Linked DNA regions of Homo sapiens: region 2 is linked to region 1. Evidence: fine-mapped expression QTL. A gene starts in region 1. The other region holds a variant in brackets. All regions are shown on one strand. Distances are between the middles of the regions. Region 1 holds the start of PTH1R (parathyroid hormone 1 receptor). Region 2 overlaps SETD2 (SET domain containing 2, histone lysine methyltransferase).

The links. PIP is the estimated chance that this variant, and not a neighbour inherited with it, causes the effect.
Region 2: its variant is the best candidate, but not a certain one, in a credible set for the expression of PTH1R in tibial nerve (GTEx, PIP 0.86).

The regions. Positions count from the first base shown.
Region 1 is chr3:46,872,429-46,881,704 of GRCh38, reverse strand. It overlaps PTH1R (parathyroid hormone 1 receptor), which reads right to left and starts at 3,984. Exons shown (of 16, transcript NM_000316.3): 1 at 3,862-3,984; 2 at 587-643. It also overlaps a transcript of MYL3 not described here. RefSeq lists an enhancer at 7,597-8,451.
Region 2 is chr3:47,114,184-47,122,183 of GRCh38, reverse strand. SETD2 (SET domain containing 2, histone lysine methyltransferase) reads left to right here. Exons shown (of 21, transcript NM_014159.7): 3 at 1-2,002; 4 at 5,430-5,561. Among named protein-coding and RNA genes, the nearest start is that of SETD2, 46 kb to the left of the region's middle. RefSeq lists enhancers at 7,458-7,966, 7,967-8,000. The variant G/A (reference allele first, on the strand shown) is at 4,721.

The sequences.
Region 1 (9,276 bases):
CTGCCCTCAGTCCCATCCCAGGCCTGTCGTTCCTCTCGGCCCTAGGCCAGCCCCGACCCCCGCCCAGGTCTGCAGCCACACATCCCGCTCCCTCCCTGCCCAGCGTCTCTTCGGGTCCGGGTCTCCGAGTCTCGACCCATTCAGCTGCTGGCCGGGCCTCTCCAGCTTGCCCAGCCCCAACCCCGGAGGCTCGAGGCTGCCAGACCTGGGGCTCAATCCAGACACCCACTCTCAGGCTTCACCTCCCTCCCCCGTTCCCACCCCCACTCCCAAAAGCTATCGGCCGGCTCGGACCGGGCCGCCTGGGACCCTCGACTTAGGGGAAGGCAAGGAGGAGTCCGCGGGGGTTGGGGCTGAACGGGGCGGGATTTCTGTGTTTGGCTGGGGAGGGCACGCTGGAGCTCTAAGAGGAGGGGCCCTTCGACCCCAAACCTACCACCTCCCGGTACCAAGTGGGGAAACTGAGGCAGAGGGAGGGGCTGGGGATGCCTGGAGCGCAGGGCTTTAAGGATCGCGGAGGAAGCGAATGCATGAGGCCCTGGGAAATGAGTCTGGGCTAAGCAACAGCCTGTGCTTGCCCGCTTACCAGTTGTGTGTCCTGGACACTACCACTCTTCGGCTGTCTGGACCTCAGTTTCCTCATCTGCAAAATGGAGAGGTTGGCCAGCTGATTCAAGGGCAATGTTAACTTTACTGTTTAGTTTCCACGAGGGTGGGCATCCTGGCCCATGGGCTCCAGGGGCTCTCAAGACTCAGCCTGTGGATATTGAGCTCCTCGGAGCCTGCAAACCTGCCCTCCAACCCTCAGTGCAAATCTGTCAAGCCCAAGTCCTAAGGCCTAGGATCCAGCTGCAGCCACCCTTCTGCTGGCTCAAGCCCATCCAGCTTCCAGACTGCACTCCCAGGTGCATTCCCCATGTATTTCTTCTGCTGCTACTTTCTTCTTCTTTCTTCTCCTTCTCCTTCTTCTTCTTCTTCAAGACAAAGTCTCACTTTGTCACCCAGGCTGGAGTCCAGTGGCATGATCTCTGCTCACTGCAACCTCCGCTTCCCAGGCTCAAGTGATTCTCCCAAGTAGCTGGGACTACAGGTGTGTACCACCAACCTGGCTAATTTTTGCATTTCTTGGTAGAGACGGGGTTTCACCATGTTGACCAGGCTGGTCACGAACCCCTGACCTCAAGTGATCCACCTGCCTCAGCCTCCCAAAGTGCTGGGATTACAGGTATGAACCACCAGCCTTGGCCCTCCCCATGCATTTCTATGGCTGCCTCCCTTCTCTGTGCCCACTGCCCTCATTTCTTTTTCTGGTGTTCAAGGGCTGTGCTATTTGAGACAGTTTCCTCCAAAAATGACTCTCCCTAACAGGAACTGTCTGCTAGACTCCTGGTCTTCTTCACACATCCACTCTCCTGCCTTTGTCCTTGCTGCTTCCTCTGCCAGGATCATACTCTTCTGCCTGGTGTAAAGGACACTCCCCTCCCTCCTTGTGTGCCCACATCCTCCGTTACTGGGGAGGGAGGTTGTGATTTCAGGGCTGCCTCCTATGGTATGTAGCCTCCTTGGGACGGAGGCCCAGGTGCCAGAATGGGCACCTAAAGAACACTTGTGGTTCTTCAGTGTTATATTTTAATGGTCTCAGCTTTATTATGCCTCTGTTTCTTTTCTTTTTTGAGACAGGGCTGTTGGCCAGGCTGGAGTGCAGTGGTGCGATCTCGGCTGACTGCAACCTCCACCTCCCGGGTTCAAGCAATTCTCTGGCCTCAGCCTCCTGAGTAGCTGGCATTATAGTTGTGCACCACCACGCCTGGCTAATTTTTGCATTTGTAGTGGAGATGGGGTTTCTCCATGTTGGCCAGGCTGGTTTCAAACTCCTGGCCTCAAGTGATCCTGTCTCGGCCTCCCAAAGTGTTGAGATTACAAGCGTGAGCCACCACACGCAGCATTTTTTTTTTCCCCAGACAGGGTCTTGCTGTGTCACCCAGGCTGGAGTGCAGTGGCACGGTCATGGCTCACAGCAGCCTTGACCTCCTGGGCTCAAGCAATCCTCTCACCTCAGCCTCTCATGTAGCTGGCACCACAGGCATGAGCTACCACACCTGGGTAATTAAAAAATTTTTTTTTTGTAGAGACGAGGTCTCACTTTGTTGCCTAGACTGGTCTCCAACTCTTGGGCTCAAGCAGTCCTCCTGCCTCGGCCTCCCAAAGTGCTGGGATTACAGGCATGAACCACCGCACCTGGCCTATGCCTCTGTTTCTAAGTGTCTCTAAGTTTTATGGTTCTGTGACCACTGATCTTCCACCCTGCTTTCCCCCTTGGTGATGAGAAAAGAACATTAATGGAGGGATTGGAAGGACTGAGAGATAAAACTAGAGGCTGAGGGGAGGAGTTCTTTTCAGATCTGACACCAGGGAAAACTTGAGATTTGGAAACATACTACTTGTACTTGGGAGGATGAGGGTGGGCTGTGGAGAGGGCTGCAGAGAGGAATCTGATGGGTGCTGGGTCCCTTAAGGGCATTCCTCCTGCCATAACTCATGTGCCTCACCCCAGAGTCCCCTGCTGGACATTCCACAGCTGTGGGTGGGGCCACAGATCATCTCTCTCACCCTCGGGCCTCTGGTTAAAGTGCTACCATGAGGGTGGGGGTGTCACACATTAACTGGTAGCACCCAAGCACCTGGCAGAGTCAGCTTGCCCTTTTTGACAAGCACGCCCCAGGGGCTCAGAGTCAGTTTCTGGTTAGTGTCAGGTCAGTGTTAGTTTCAATGGGGTTTGAAAAGGCCTGGCTGGGGGTGGGGAGTAGGAGTGAGTCCCTGTCTCTAATCCCCAGGCTGGGGCCTAGGAGGAGGAGCCAGGGTGGTCACTGGATCTCAGAACTGCAGTAGGGGCCAGACTCTGGCCCCACCCCTGCTGGTGTGGCAGCCCCAGGCTGACAGGCCTCTGCTGCAGCCATCCCACCGTGAGTAGGGCTCTGGCCAAGGTACACAGACCCTGGGGCCAGGGTGGGCATCAGACACCAACAAGCAAGGCAAGAGGCTCAGCTGTCTGAGCAATGCAGCCTGGCCTTCCTCCCTCAGAAAACCCCTTGGCCAGACCAGGGGTTCTCTGGGACTAATGGCTCACATCTATTTCTGAGTCCTTATATTTCCCCAGTGCTTCATCCCAACACTAGCCCCAAAGTCAGGCTGCATCCAAGCTTAGCCCTGATCCCAGACTGAGCTCTATCTCCATCATGAGCCCCAGCCTCAGGCTGAGTTCTTATCCCAGTCTGATTTCTAGCCCCTGGCTGAACTCTGACCCCAGGTTGTGCCTCCACCCAGCCCTCAACCCCAGACCTCTCTCGGCTTCTAGGCCCCTCTGGAAACTTTTTGAGGCAAGAGCCCAGTAGGGGAGGGGATGGCTAGGCCATAAGTGAAGCGAGGTGCCACTTTTACAGCCATTTCGGCTGCTCATAAACACCCCCTGACACCCAGCTGAGTCGCTGGAGGCTCCCATGGCAGCTGGCTGGGTAGCCCCCTTCCCTTGCAGCAGAAGCATGGCTGCCTGGCTTTCTTGCCTCTCAGGAAGGTGAAGGGAGGGGCGATGGGGGCACCTGGGGCCAGCAGGCTCTGTCCCAACCAGGGAGCACTCCTAAGGCTCCCAAGGAGCTAGAGGTATGGGCTTTCTGTCCCTGCTGGCCTCATGGTTACAAGCCCCCTGCTGTCATAACACCAGGTCCACAGATGTGTCTCCATGCGGGCATGTCTTGTCTGCCCCATAGCACGGCCCAGGTATTTAGACACTCACCCCCAGGGAAACCACAGACTTGGGCTTCCCAGCTGTGCTCAGGCCCCTAGGCTCCCCTGGCCCCCACTCACCTGCAGCCCATGGGCCTTCCAAGTCGGGCCTAAAGCTGCAGAGCAGACTCAAGTTGGCCACGGGGAGGCCATGGATAGTCCCTGAGCAGCTTCTGTGGCTCAGGCCTAAGCAAGGATAGTGCTGCTGGGGACAAGAAAAGACCTGAGTCAGAGCTTCCACTTGAAAAGAAAATTAATTATTTTTTACCAAGCCCTACACTGGCCCAGGACTTTGTCCCAGGCTCCTAGTCAGGAGTAGGAGGCAACAGAGGCAGATCCAAGTGTGCCGGTGTTCAGATGCCCAGGGCTGGGCCCTCCCCTCAGCACCCATGGGTCTGCCTGCCAGGTAACTGGGCCCACTCAGGCTGCCAGACACGTGTGTGTGCCTCAATAGTCCTCTCCTTGCCCTGCCATGCCTCTCTCTTAGTCTCTGTGTCCCTGTCTAACCCTCTGGTCCTTTCCACATCTCAGGAATATCAGGCTGCCACGAGGTATGAACACAGCCCCTACTAGTGACTTCACTCAAGTTTAAGGCACCCAGAGAAATCAGAGGGGGGCTGGAGGTGGTTCTTGCCTGTGTCACAGGCAGGAAAACTGAGGCCCAAGAAAGCCTGATCTGCCAGCACTGGGTACCCAGTGGCTCCTAGACGGAAGAGATGGAGGGGGCCGTCATTCCACTCCAGCCCGTGTCCTGACCCCTACAGCCCCACAGCCACCTCATATCTGACTCCTTGCCCACTGGAATGTGGGCTCCTGGTGAGGAGTCAGCCAGGAAGCCCTCCCTATCTGCCTCCCAGGCCCTTCCAGGCCCAGGGTCTGCTTAAGCTGTCACAGGTCTCAAAGGCAGGGGGCTGTGGACAGGATGACTTCTCTCTGTGGGTCTGTAGAACGAGCTGTGTTCAGAACCAGGGCTGGTTGCTCAGGATGAAGATGTGGGCAGACAGGGAGGCAGAGACCCTGCAAGATCCCAGAAACCTCACCCCCAGGCCCTGTGACCCGGCTGGAGGCTGCCCTTCTGCCTGAGCCCAGTCTGAGCTGGTTTGTGTCTGGAAGTCCTAGGCTCAGCCTGATGAGGTATAATGATTCACGTGGCAGCTGCCACTCAGCACATTCCAGCTGTAGCCCCCAGTGCCCTGCATGTGAGGCAGCTGGCCCCAACCACCCCCAGCCATTGGGCACATTCCTAGGGCCCCCCTCCCTGGGTCTTCCAGGCTCCTGGGGAGGGTACCACTCATTAGAGTTTCCAAAGTACTTTTTGTTTCACAAGTTAGTCAGGGAGGCAGGCTCGGTGATACCTGGCCTCCAGGTGGAGGAAACGGGACCAAAGAGCAGAATGGACTGGCCAGGGGACATAGTGAAACTATGACAAACAGCACTTATGGGACTCCTGCCCCAGCTACTCTGAAGTGCACTGCTCCAAGGGGTATCCTGGGACACGTAGGCTATTCTGTGACCAGGCCAGCGGAGGTCAGTGGGCAGTTGTGCCCAAAGGAGGGAGAGTTCCCCTGTGCTCTGTCAAGCCTCCCTGTTGCCCTGGCTCTTGACTGCCAGAGCCTCTACCTCCCCTGAGTCCACATGCACTGCCCTACCCTGCCCACAGGCCCCATCCTCACTGGCCAGGGAAGCAGGAGGCTGGGGCCTTTTCTGCTTTGACCTGTGGATCCCTGAGCCAGACGCCTTCCTGCTCATGGCCTCAGTTTCCTGATCTGTTGTTAACAGTTGGGCAGTTTCAGGCTCAAAGGGGATCTGTAAAGTGCCCAGGCACTTGGGTCTTGGATGCAAGCAGACCTGGGAGTCTGAAAACCTGAAGGCCTTTCTCTCCTCGAGCCTTGGGCCTGCCAGTTTGCGTTCCTCCTGTGGGCCCCAGCCCAGGGCTCTGGGGGGCAAGTCTGGCCCTCAGCTCCGGGGACAGGAAGTTGTATTTTGGTCCTGGGTTCTGGGGAAGAGGTAGGGGGAGAATGGCAGCTCAGACCCAGCCATGTTTACTCGGGCCCGGCCCCCTCCGAGCTCAACAGGCTCCCATTCATTGGGAGACCCATAAACCCTTTGGGGCTCCCTGAGGTTCAGAACGCCTGGATGCCAAGGCTGGATGCCGCCCCCAGACCTGCTGGGAGCTGTGGGCAGCAGGTGGGGCATGAGTGAGGCATAAGTGGGATGGTGGGTGGGAGCCTGAGACTCGCCTGAGTTTCCAGGTATTTGCAGCGTCGTAACAGTTCTTGCCCCATGCACATTGTGGAGCAGTTGGGAAATCCAGGGAGGTGGTGGAGGTTGAAGGGTTCCTTCCATGGCCACGAGGCCATCAAAACTGATTTCTCTTAGATCAGGCCCCAGAAGGGTGTCTCCTCAGACTAGGCTCCTGAGGGCATGTCCTCAAATTGCATGACCCTCAAGGCAAGGCTGAGACTGCTGTGTCCAAAGCGGAGCTGATGTCCTTGCTGAGGCTGCATACCTGGCCTTGGGTTGTTGACAGTCCACTCCCTGGCAGTGTGGGCATGGGCTTGCATCCCACTGGAGTAGGGCAAGTCTCTGGTCTGTTCCTCATCTGTTCAGCAGGAGGTCTTCACCGGAAGGGGAAGCACTGGGATTGGATGCTGAGGGATGGGGCCCTCAGGTCTGCATCCCTCAGTGTTGCGTGTTGTTACCTTTGTGCCCATCTCTGTGCTTTCTTTGGGTGAGTTAGAGCACCGTCCCGTGGTCCCTGGAAATGGAAGGGAGGCAGCAACAGTGTTCAATGGGAAGAACTGTGGCTTGGGGGTCCAAATCTTGTCCAGCTTTCCCATGACCTGGTAACAATTCTGTCCCCACTCAGGTCTTCAGTTCTCCCTGCCACAGACGGGTTAGAGTGGACTCTCTCCAAACCCACCCCCAGCCCTGCTGTTCCCAAGGGCAGCTCTGAGGGAGATCCCTGGTGGCATGGTGGCGGGGAGTGGGGTAGGAGAAAGGCCTCCCCACCAGATCCCCTTTCATCAGTGCCCCCACATGCCCGGGCAACCTGGCCAGCCACTGGGGACACTGGTTGGGGGTCCAAAGCGGGTCCTGTTTCCCAGACGCCTTCTGGGTAGAGTGTGATTTCCCGCTCCAGTGGTTGTAAAATCCCCAGAAGCCTAGTGCGTCCCTATTGTGTGTGTGGGGGGGGGTCTGTGCCTCGGAATACCCCCTCCCAGGCGTGTTTGACACGTGTTTCCGCCTCTCCCTGCATGGGCTCCCGCTGCTGCTATTTATAACCTTTAAGAGCTCCTGCCGACTGCAAAGTTTTCTTAAACTCAAAATATCACCGAGGTCCCGGGCACGCGTTCCAGAGGCCGGCTGGGCCCTGCGGTTTGAAGGGAGGAGGGGGCCAGGAAGGAGGAGGTGGTGGGGAGGGGGTTAGCTCAGACACTGGGTCCTTGCCGGGGGCTGTGGCCGGGAGCCCTCGAGTGGAGAACCCCTAGTCCTGACACTCCTGCCCTGTTAGGCCTGGAGGAACCCTCTATGTGGGTGGTCCTTTGTCGTGCCTTGCCAAATCTCTGGGCCTCAGTTTCCTCTCACTCTAAATGCCTCAGGGGACACTGGCTGGGGCAAGGCAATGAGCTGGCGGACACTGGGAATGTCTCTAGGGCTGGAATCAGGGTTGTGTCTGCCTGGCCATCCTGCAGGCTGCACCAAGCCTGGCCCAGAGGCACCGTGGACATTGGCTGAACTGGCTGGAGAGGGGAAGCACTCAGGGAAGTTTATAAAACCGTGTATGGGAAAGCGACATCCAGAGAAGGGCAATGGCATGCCAGAGGTCACCCCGCTCATCCAGAGCAAGTCTCCAGGCCTTCCGACACCCGTGCCCTCTGAGGTGAGCCTCTTTGGAAGAGGCCGAAGGGCTCTCACTGGGCACAGGTGGGTCGCCAGTGTGGAGGAGGTTCTGGGCTTAACGGGAGGTGGCTAGGCATAACTCAGATGCCTCCCTGAAGCTGGAGGGGACACTGGCAGCTGGTCTGGCCCAGTGAGGTCAGGCCTCTGCCCAAAGTCACACACCCAGCTCCTGCCTGCCCTGACCTCTGCTCTATCTCTGGGGCCTCTCTGCCTCCCGGACTAGTCATGATCTTTTTGGGGAGGTCAGTGGTCTAGGCTTCCCCCAGTCCCACTGCACTCCTTTCCTGAGCTGGTGTGGGGGCTGTGGAGGCAAGGGACTGGAGCACTGAACTCAGGGCCATCCAGTACATCCTGTCCTCACAGCAGCACCCTCTCTCAGCACAGCTGGCTCTGGAAGCCACTCTTGGCCCAACGAGCAGAGCTGGGTTCAAGATGGAAGGGTGACCACCCCCGCCCTTAAACTCAGCGGCCCCACATCAATTTTTCCAATCAAGCGTAACCACACAGGGCTCCTTGGGGGTGGAGGGGGGCAAGGAAGTGATGACCTCGCAAACAGAGGAGGAGGAAGAAGAGGAGGAGGAGGAACAATGTGTTCTGCAAGCTCAGCCCTGCCTTCCGTGGCCCCTGCCTGCACCTTACTGTGTGTTGGGCTCAGCTGGGAGATGCAGAGACTCAAGAGTTTGGGGGAGCCAACTCCCTGCCTGGCCCCACTGCCCTGTGTTCCCATTCCCTGAACCCTCCATGAGCTCTTGGCCTCTGCCCCTGCACTTCTTGCCATCTGACTTGTCCTTCCCTTCTCTGCCTGGGTGGCTCTTGTATGCCCTCCAAAGGCCCCCTCCTCTCTGAAGCCTTCCTGGATCTGCACCTTTCAACTCCCAGCAGAGTGAGACCTCAGACCTCCTGGTATGACTAGAAAATTTAGCACGGCATGATATGCTGCTGCCTCTGTCCCAATAGACGGCGAGCCCTTGAGGACAGGGGCTAGGTTATCTCTGTGGCTCTGCTGAGAAGCCTCCATCTCTTGGGGGAGGGCACACCTATTGGCCAGAGCTGTGGATTCCAAACACCCTGCTCCCTTACCTCTTTGTCTCTCAGTTGCCATGGGTAGGCTCAGTTTCCTCATGAGCAGGCCCCAGGATCAGAGACAGATCCCTTCATTGTTGGAACGCTCATTGTCGGAACGTTTTCCTCCAGGAAACGTTATGAGATGGAATCTGCCTGACGGCATCTTCTCAGAAAGCCAGGGAGCAGCCCCAGGGGTTGAGCTGGAGCCTAACCCTGAGACAGCAGCTGAACCTGGAGCTGGCAGAGAGGACCCACCCTCGACCCCCATCCCAGACCAGCCTGGCTGTCCCTGCAGCTGCTGCTGTGAGACCATGGGAGTGGGGAGACTGGCATGTCCTCTCTCTGGACCCCAAGGTCAGGCGAGGAGGGGCCTGAGAGGTGGTGACGGCTTCTGGCAGCCGCAATCAATGATGGTTTCTCCTTGTTTTCCTGCCCCTGGGAGGTGTATCTCCAATGATTCTAGGTGGGGCAGGGGCCACGAGCATGCTGGTTGGGGGTGGGCTGAGGGGGGGGGTCTTGGGGCCCTAC
Region 2 (8,000 bases), 240 kb before region 1:
AGATTTCTTCAAATAGCTTTATGAATGTGCATTTGGAATCAAAACCAGTTATATGTGATAGTAGAAATTTGACAGATCACTCAAAATTTGCATGTGAAGAATATAAGCAGAGCATCGGTAGCACTAGTTCAGCTTCTGTTAATCATTTTGATGATTTATATCAACCTATTGGGAGTTCAGGTATTGCTTCATCTCTTCAGAGTCTTCCACCAGGAATAAAGGTGGACAGTCTAACTCTCTTGAAATGCGGAGAGAACACATCTCCAGTTCTGGATGCAGTGCTAAAGAGTAAAAAAAGTTCAGAGTTTTTAAAGCATGCAGGGAAAGAAACAATAGTAGAAGTAGGTAGTGACCTTCCTGATTCAGGAAAGGGATTTGCTTCCAGGGAGAACAGGCGTAATAATGGGTTATCTGGGAAATGTTTGCAAGAGGCTCAAGAAGAAGGGAATTCCATATTGCCTGAAAGAAGAGGAAGACCAGAAATCTCTTTAGATGAAAGAGGAGAAGGAGGACATGTGCATACTTCTGATGACTCAGAAGTTGTATTTTCTTCTTGTGATTTGAATTTAACCATGGAAGACAGTGATGGTGTAACTTATGCATTAAAGTGTGACAGTAGTGGTCATGCCCCAGAAATTGTGTCTACAGTTCATGAAGATTATTCTGGCTCTTCTGAAAGTTCAAATGATGAAAGTGATTCAGAAGATACAGATTCGGATGATAGCAGTATTCCAAGAAACCGTCTCCAGTCTGTTGTGGTTGTGCCAAAGAATTCTACTTTGCCCATGGAAGAAACAAGTCCTTGTTCTTCTCGGAGCAGTCAAAGTTATAGACACTATTCTGACCATTGGGAAGATGAGAGATTGGAGTCAAGGAGACATTTGTATGAGGAAAAATTTGAAAGTATAGCAAGTAAAGCCTGTCCTCAAACTGATAAGTTTTTCCTTCATAAAGGAACAGAGAAGAATCCGGAAATTTCTTTTACACAGTCCAGTAGAAAACAAATAGATAATCGCCTGCCTGAACTTTCTCATCCTCAGAGTGATGGGGTTGATAGTACAAGTCATACAGATGTGAAATCTGACCCTCTGGGTCACCCAAATTCAGAGGAAACCGTGAAAGCCAAAATACCTTCTAGGCAGCAAGAAGAGCTGCCAATTTATTCTTCTGATTTTGAAGATGTCCCAAATAAGTCTTGGCAACAGACCACTTTCCAAAACAGGCCAGATAGTAGACTGGGAAAAACAGAATTGAGTTTTTCTTCCTCTTGTGAGATACCACATGTGGATGGCTTGCACTCATCAGAAGAGCTCAGAAACTTAGGTTGGGACTTCTCTCAAGAAAAGCCTTCTACCACGTATCAGCAACCTGACAGTAGCTATGGAGCTTGTGGTGGACACAAGTATCAGCAAAATGCAGAACAGTATGGTGGGACACGTGATTACTGGCAAGGCAATGGTTACTGGGATCCAAGATCAGGTAGACCTCCTGGAACTGGGGTTGTGTATGATCGAACTCAAGGACAAGTACCAGATTCCCTAACAGATGATCGTGAAGAAGAGGAGAATTGGGATCAACAGGATGGATCCCATTTTTCAGACCAGTCCGATAAATTTCTTCTATCCCTTCAGAAAGACAAGGGGTCAGTGCAAGCACCTGAAATAAGCAGCAATTCCATTAAGGACACTTTAGCTGTGAATGAAAAGAAAGATTTTTCAAAAAACTTAGAAAAAAATGATATCAAAGATAGAGGGCCTCTTAAAAAAAGGAGGCAGGAAATAGAGAGTGATTCTGAAAGTGATGGTGAGCTTCAGGACAGAAAGAAAGTTAGAGTGGAGGTAGAGCAGGGAGAGACATCAGTGCCCCCAGGTTCAGCACTGGTTGGGCCCTCCTGTGTCATGGATGACTTCAGGGACCCACAGCGATGGAAGGAATGTGCCAAGCAAGGGAAAATGCCATGTTACTTTGATCTTATTGAAGAAAATGTTTATTTAACAGAAAGGTAAGTCTAATTAATACTTGTTTGACAAATTTTAACTCTTTTTTTGTTGTTAGAAAAAGCCTTTAAACAATTCAGACTGTATGAGATTAAACACATGAAAGAGTTGTGGGATAAAGTAAATTTAAAAGTCTAAAAAAGTGTTTTTACCTATTTAGATTTGATAGTATAGATTCCTTTCCCCATTCCCCCCGCCGCCCCATCCCCAGGAAAGGAGATGTCTATTTTTTTCTTTCATTACTTGTTTGGTTTTCAAGGTACAATTTAGGCTAGCCCAGTATTTCTGTAATTCCTTTTACATGTGAAAGTCTGACCAAAAAAACAGAATAAAACCCCAGCAAAATAATCTGTACTTAGAGAAGAAAAAAGTGGTTACTTTGGATTTTATTTTCAAAAATGTGCAGAATGAAGTATCTTTGGGTACTGTATTAGTCCGTTTTCATGCTGCTGATAAAGACATACCCGAGACTGGGAAGAAAAAGAGGTTTAATTGGACTTGCAGTTCCACATGGCTGGGGAGGCCTCAGAATTGCGGCAGGAGGCAAAAGGCACTTCTTACATGGTGGTGGCAAGAGAAAAAGAGGAAGAAGCAAAAGTGAAAACCCTTGATAAACCCATCAGATCTTGTGTGACTTAATCACCATCACAAGAATAACACGAGAAAGGCCGGCCCCCATGATTCAGTTACCTCCTCAAGTTGAGTTTGGGTGGGGAAACAGCCAAACCATATCAGGTACTTATAAAGTTAGAACTAGACTAGAACATAATTTTCTTCTCTCATTTTTTTTTAGACTATTGTTAATAGATTAAATCTGGCAATAGTGTAATAAATATTTTAGAAATGATAAAGTGGTTTATCAAAAAATCCCTAACATGAAACAAATTATAATGAGAATAAGAGTAATGAAAACATAGTCCTCTAGAGCAGGGCTTCTCAGTCTGTTTTAACTTTAACCCCTCCTTGATAATTTTCTCATTTTCCTGATGTAAATTTATATTGATTGTGCTTAAAAAACCAAAACAAAAAGTATCCTGCCCCCTTACTCTCCTTTTTTGGAAGTTTTCCTGCTAGTTGAGAATCAACCTAGCCATTGTATCTTTAAGGATCAAAATGTTATTAAATCAAATTTTCCTCTGTGTATAAGGTAAAAGACTTAATTTTAAAGGTAGGTCCTACCAGAAATTTTTTTCTATTACAAAATAACCTTTTAACAGAGAGCCTTTTACAGCTATTTTCATTTATATCTAGTTATAAATTAAGTTTACATTTAAAATATTCAATATTTTAAGTAGTACCCTTTAGGAATTGTGTGAGTAGACTAATGGAACTTACAAGATCTTTGTAAAAGAATATAAATAAAACTAATCAGTCCAATTCTCTGACTTTTCTTTAGCATTGAGAATCAGATATATATATATAAAACTGTGCACATAGATTTGGTTAGTGGAGGCATAAGAGGGCTTCCACCACTTTGCAGTGGGAAGGATTTATATATATTTAACTTTTTTTTTTTTTTTTTGAGACAGAGTCTCACTTTGTCTCCCAGGGTGGAGTGCAGTGGCGTGATCTCAGCTCACTGCAACCTCTGCCGGGTGCCACCACGCCCAGCTAATTTTTGTATTTTTAGTAGAGATGGGTTTCACCATGTTGGCCAGGCTGGTCTCGAACTCCTGACCTCAGGTGATCCGCCCGTCTCAGCCTCCCAAAGTACTGGGATTACAGGCGTGAGCTACCACGCCTGGCCTATATATTCAAAATTTTGAAGTGCCTGTTATATGCTAGGCATTTAGGAGCCACTAAGAAGACAAACTCTTATAAAAAATAATATGAATATAATGAAAACATTTTTCTTATGTTTAATGGAAAAGGGCTTACCTGCCAAAATCTATGCCCATTCGTCCTATTCCAGCCTTCTAGAGCAATACAAAATAAAGCTGCTGCTGATTCTTCAAAATTGTAGCTAAGTACTTCTAAATAGATAATTTCGTTTAGTCATCTTCAGGCTAAGCATATTCATATACTCATTAACGAATTGTGTCTTTAATCAAGAGGAATCATTCTTTTCACCTAAACTTAGTTAAAACTATCATAACACTCTTGAGGCACTTCATAAAATTGGCACTAGAATAGAACATATGTTGAAGATCAAAGCAGATTAGAGGTAGGAGATTAGATAACCATTTAGAGCAGCTATGCTGTTTCCTGTTTGATAGTCAAAGAGTGAGTTATAGTTCTTATAGTTCCCTAATCTTAAACATAACAGATCTTTTTTGACCATCTTTGGTTGTTTTGTTTTGTTTTTAGACCAGGGTAAAAGACTAGTTCATCAGCAAAAAGGCCAATAAATAATCACATTTTCACTTTTGCTTTGCACACTCTGGCATGGCTTATTATGAACGCAATCAAATTTTAGCAGTTTATGTTCTTCTCCAAAATAAATCTGTCTGCATGGAGAAAGTTGAGCCCTCTTAAACATTTACCTGATTATTCTGTAATTACACTTCATTTAAAAAATTCAGTCTGCTTTTAAACAAAATTTATGCAGATGTGATGTTACTGAAAGATTCTCTAAAATATTGGATTGAGTTAGAACTCACTCTTATTTTTTTAGAAACCCCTTTTCTCCCTCAATCTTATATCTCAACTATTATTTGCTCATCCATGAGGTCTGATTCTTAAACTTAACTTTAACCAGCTATGTCACTATTTGAAATGCATGA[G/A]TTTTCCTATTTTTCCTAGAACCTAGTATGACTTTAACACTTGAAACTGTTCTGAATCCAAGGCTTAGCTGACCTGGAGTAGGAAATAAGGGCTGAGTTCCAGAATGAGTAGTCTTGAACTCATCTCATCTTCCCCATTTGCCAAGGTTAAGGTTGCCCTTCTCATGTTTTTTTTTTTGTTTGTTTTTTTTTTTTTTTTTTTGGTAATGCAGGTCTTAGGATTTTCAGTCTCACAAGTACTAATAATTAGATGTTTTATTTTGAATGGTTGACTTACAGGAATCATTAAATGTGAATCTAGCCAGGCGTAGTGGATCATGCCTGCGATTGCAGCACTTTGGGAAGTGGAGGCAGGGGAATTTCTTGAGCCCAGGAGTTCAAGACCAGCTTGAGTAACATAGAGAGACCCTGTCTCTACAGAATATTAAAGAACAAACAAACAACAACAATAACAAAAACCAAGCGTGGTGGCATGAGCTGTGGTCCCAGCTATTCAGGAGGTGGAAGTGGGAGGGTCATTTGAATCCAGGAGGTTGAGGCTGCAGTGAGCCATGATCGCATCACTGCACCCTGGCCTGGGTGACAGAACAAGACCCTGTTTAAAAAAACCCAAAAGAATCTAATGAGATTTGGCACATATTTGATTATATATGTTATATCTTTACCAGGAAATTTATTTAATCAGTTTTTATGAAATTTTACCCAATAGAAAGAAGAATAAATCTCATCGAGATATTAAGCGAATGCAGTGTGAGTGTACACCTCTTTCTAAAGATGAAAGAGCTCAAGGTGAAATAGCATGTGGGGAAGATTGTCTTAATCGTCTTCTCATGATTGAATGGTAAGTAAATTAGAATACTCGGCTTTTGCTCAACACTTCTATTAAATGTCTCTAAATATTGAATTATCAATGAAGAATAAAATTTAACCTTTCTCCTACCTATGGATGACTACAAGCAAAAAAGTATAGTAGACACTTTGATGTATAGTAGAAAACATATTAATAGGGAAACAAATATCCCTTGCATTGTGCATTAGATTACAGTACCCACCATGTTTTAAGTGCTTGGTAAAGTAGTCCTATAATATTAATTTCTATTCAGTACTTTTTTATCTTTTATAATATTTATGTCCTAGAGGTAAATGTTGGTATTTTTTAGCTTTCACTATAAAGTGAAATAAAACCCTAACATTTCAGAAATGCATAAAGTGAATGTCTTCTCCCAAACATCAGTCCCATTGTTTTGTCATTTTTCCAGAAAACTTTTAATGCCTATGCTAGCATAGGTAGATGTTTTCCTCTTTTTATGTATACAGATAAAATCTTATTCTATATACTTGCTTGGATTTGCTAATCAGACCTAATCAGAGCTCTGTGTACAGACCTGCCTAAATCTTTCTCTTGACTGCATTATGTATTCTATTCATAGTTAGCCGGTAATTAGTCTGTTGACAGACATTTGCTTCTGTATTGTTCTTATAAATAGTAAATATCTTTACATTAAAAAATTTAATTTTGGCCAGGCGTAGTGGCTCATGCCTGTAATCCCAGCTATTTGGGAGGCTGAGGCGGGCAGATCACTTGAGGCCAGGAGTTTAGGATCAGCCTGGCCAACATGGTGAAACCCCATCTCTACTAAAAAATACAAAAATTAGCCAGGCATGATGACACACACCTGTAATCCCAGCTACTCTGGAGGCTGAGGCAGGAGAAGCACTTGAACCCAGGAGGTGGAGCTTGCAGTGAGCTGTCATTCCACTATACTCCAGCCTGGGTGACAGAGCGAGATGTTGTCTCAAAAAAATTTTTTTAACCAATCTGATTGATGAAAAATATATTCTTGTCTTTTACATGGAAAGAGTATACCTTATTTTTGATGTTAGTGAAGGTTTTTTTTCCCCAAAGCTCAGTTTTTGGTTTTGCTCATGTTATAGTGTTGCAAAAATAAAATATATATACCTTGAAAAAATAAAGAGAAAGGATTTTTGGTATTCTTTTATCCAAACTAGAGAGAGAGATGACAGTACAGATGTAAGAAGAGAAGACATAGAGTTAGCATTATTCTAACTTCATATTGTTGCCCTAGTCATTCTTCTGGGTTTTCCTGCCAACCTTGTGAAGCATACATGAAGAAAAATATTTCTTCATATTATTCACACACTTAAGCTTTTGGTAGTTCTCGGTTGTTCTCATGATTAGGTTCAAACTTAGCCTTGTATTCAGAGCCCTTGGTAGCATATCATCAGCCTGTCTTTTCATCCTCCAGCAACTCACCTTTCTTATCAGTTATCTTTAGTTGTTTCATTTCTCTTTGTCCAAACAGGGATTGTTTTCCTATTTCTGCACACAGACAGGGACAGTTGTATCTCCAGCTTTCTTTATGCATATCCTATGTATCATTAGAGATTCTGCCTTAAATTCTCTTCCCTCCTGAAAGCTTTCCTTTATACTGCCTCACTCTAGAGCAAATCCTTCATCCTTTGACCATTGCTAAAAATGTTATTTGCTGCTGGGTGGGCAATAAATAATAATATATTCAAAATGATTGGTAATTTCCAGTGGTCTTTTTTTTTTTTTTTTTTTTTTGAGACAGTCTCCCTCTGTCGCCCAGGCTAGAGTGCAGTGGCACAATCTTGACTCACTACAACCTCTGCCTCCTGGGTTCAAACAATTCTCCTGCCTCAGCCTCCCAAGTAGCTGGGATTACAGGCGTGCACCATCATGCCCGGCTAATTTTTGTATTTTTCAGAGAGACAGGATTTCACTATGTTGGCGAGGGTGGTCTTGAATTCCTGACCTCAAGTGATCCACCTGCCTTGGCCTCCCAAAGTGCTGGGATTACAGGCATGAATCACCGTACTCAGCCCCCTCTGGTGTAGTTTTAATCATCGTTAAAACCTTTATATCTATCACATATTAAGAAGTCAATCAGTGTTCGATTTTATCATTTTTACTCTAGGATCCATGGGAGAAGAGCCATGCCATGTTATTCTGTTTACTCTGAACAAGGATATATTTAATAATGACTTTAGATTTTCTCAATTGTAGATCAAGTAGTTAGCTGCATTCAAAAAATGAAATTAAAAGTGATTAGAGTAGAAGGAAGGGAAGGTGCACTTACAGAATATAAGTTCTGCAGAGTTGTCAATGTACTGAAAGCTTACATGCAGCCTGAAAATGTATTCTAGACACCTAGGGAGTGGTAGATATTTCTGTGATGACCAGATATCAAGGCTGTATTGTGGGTATGATCTGTTTAAGTAACAATGTAGATACTCA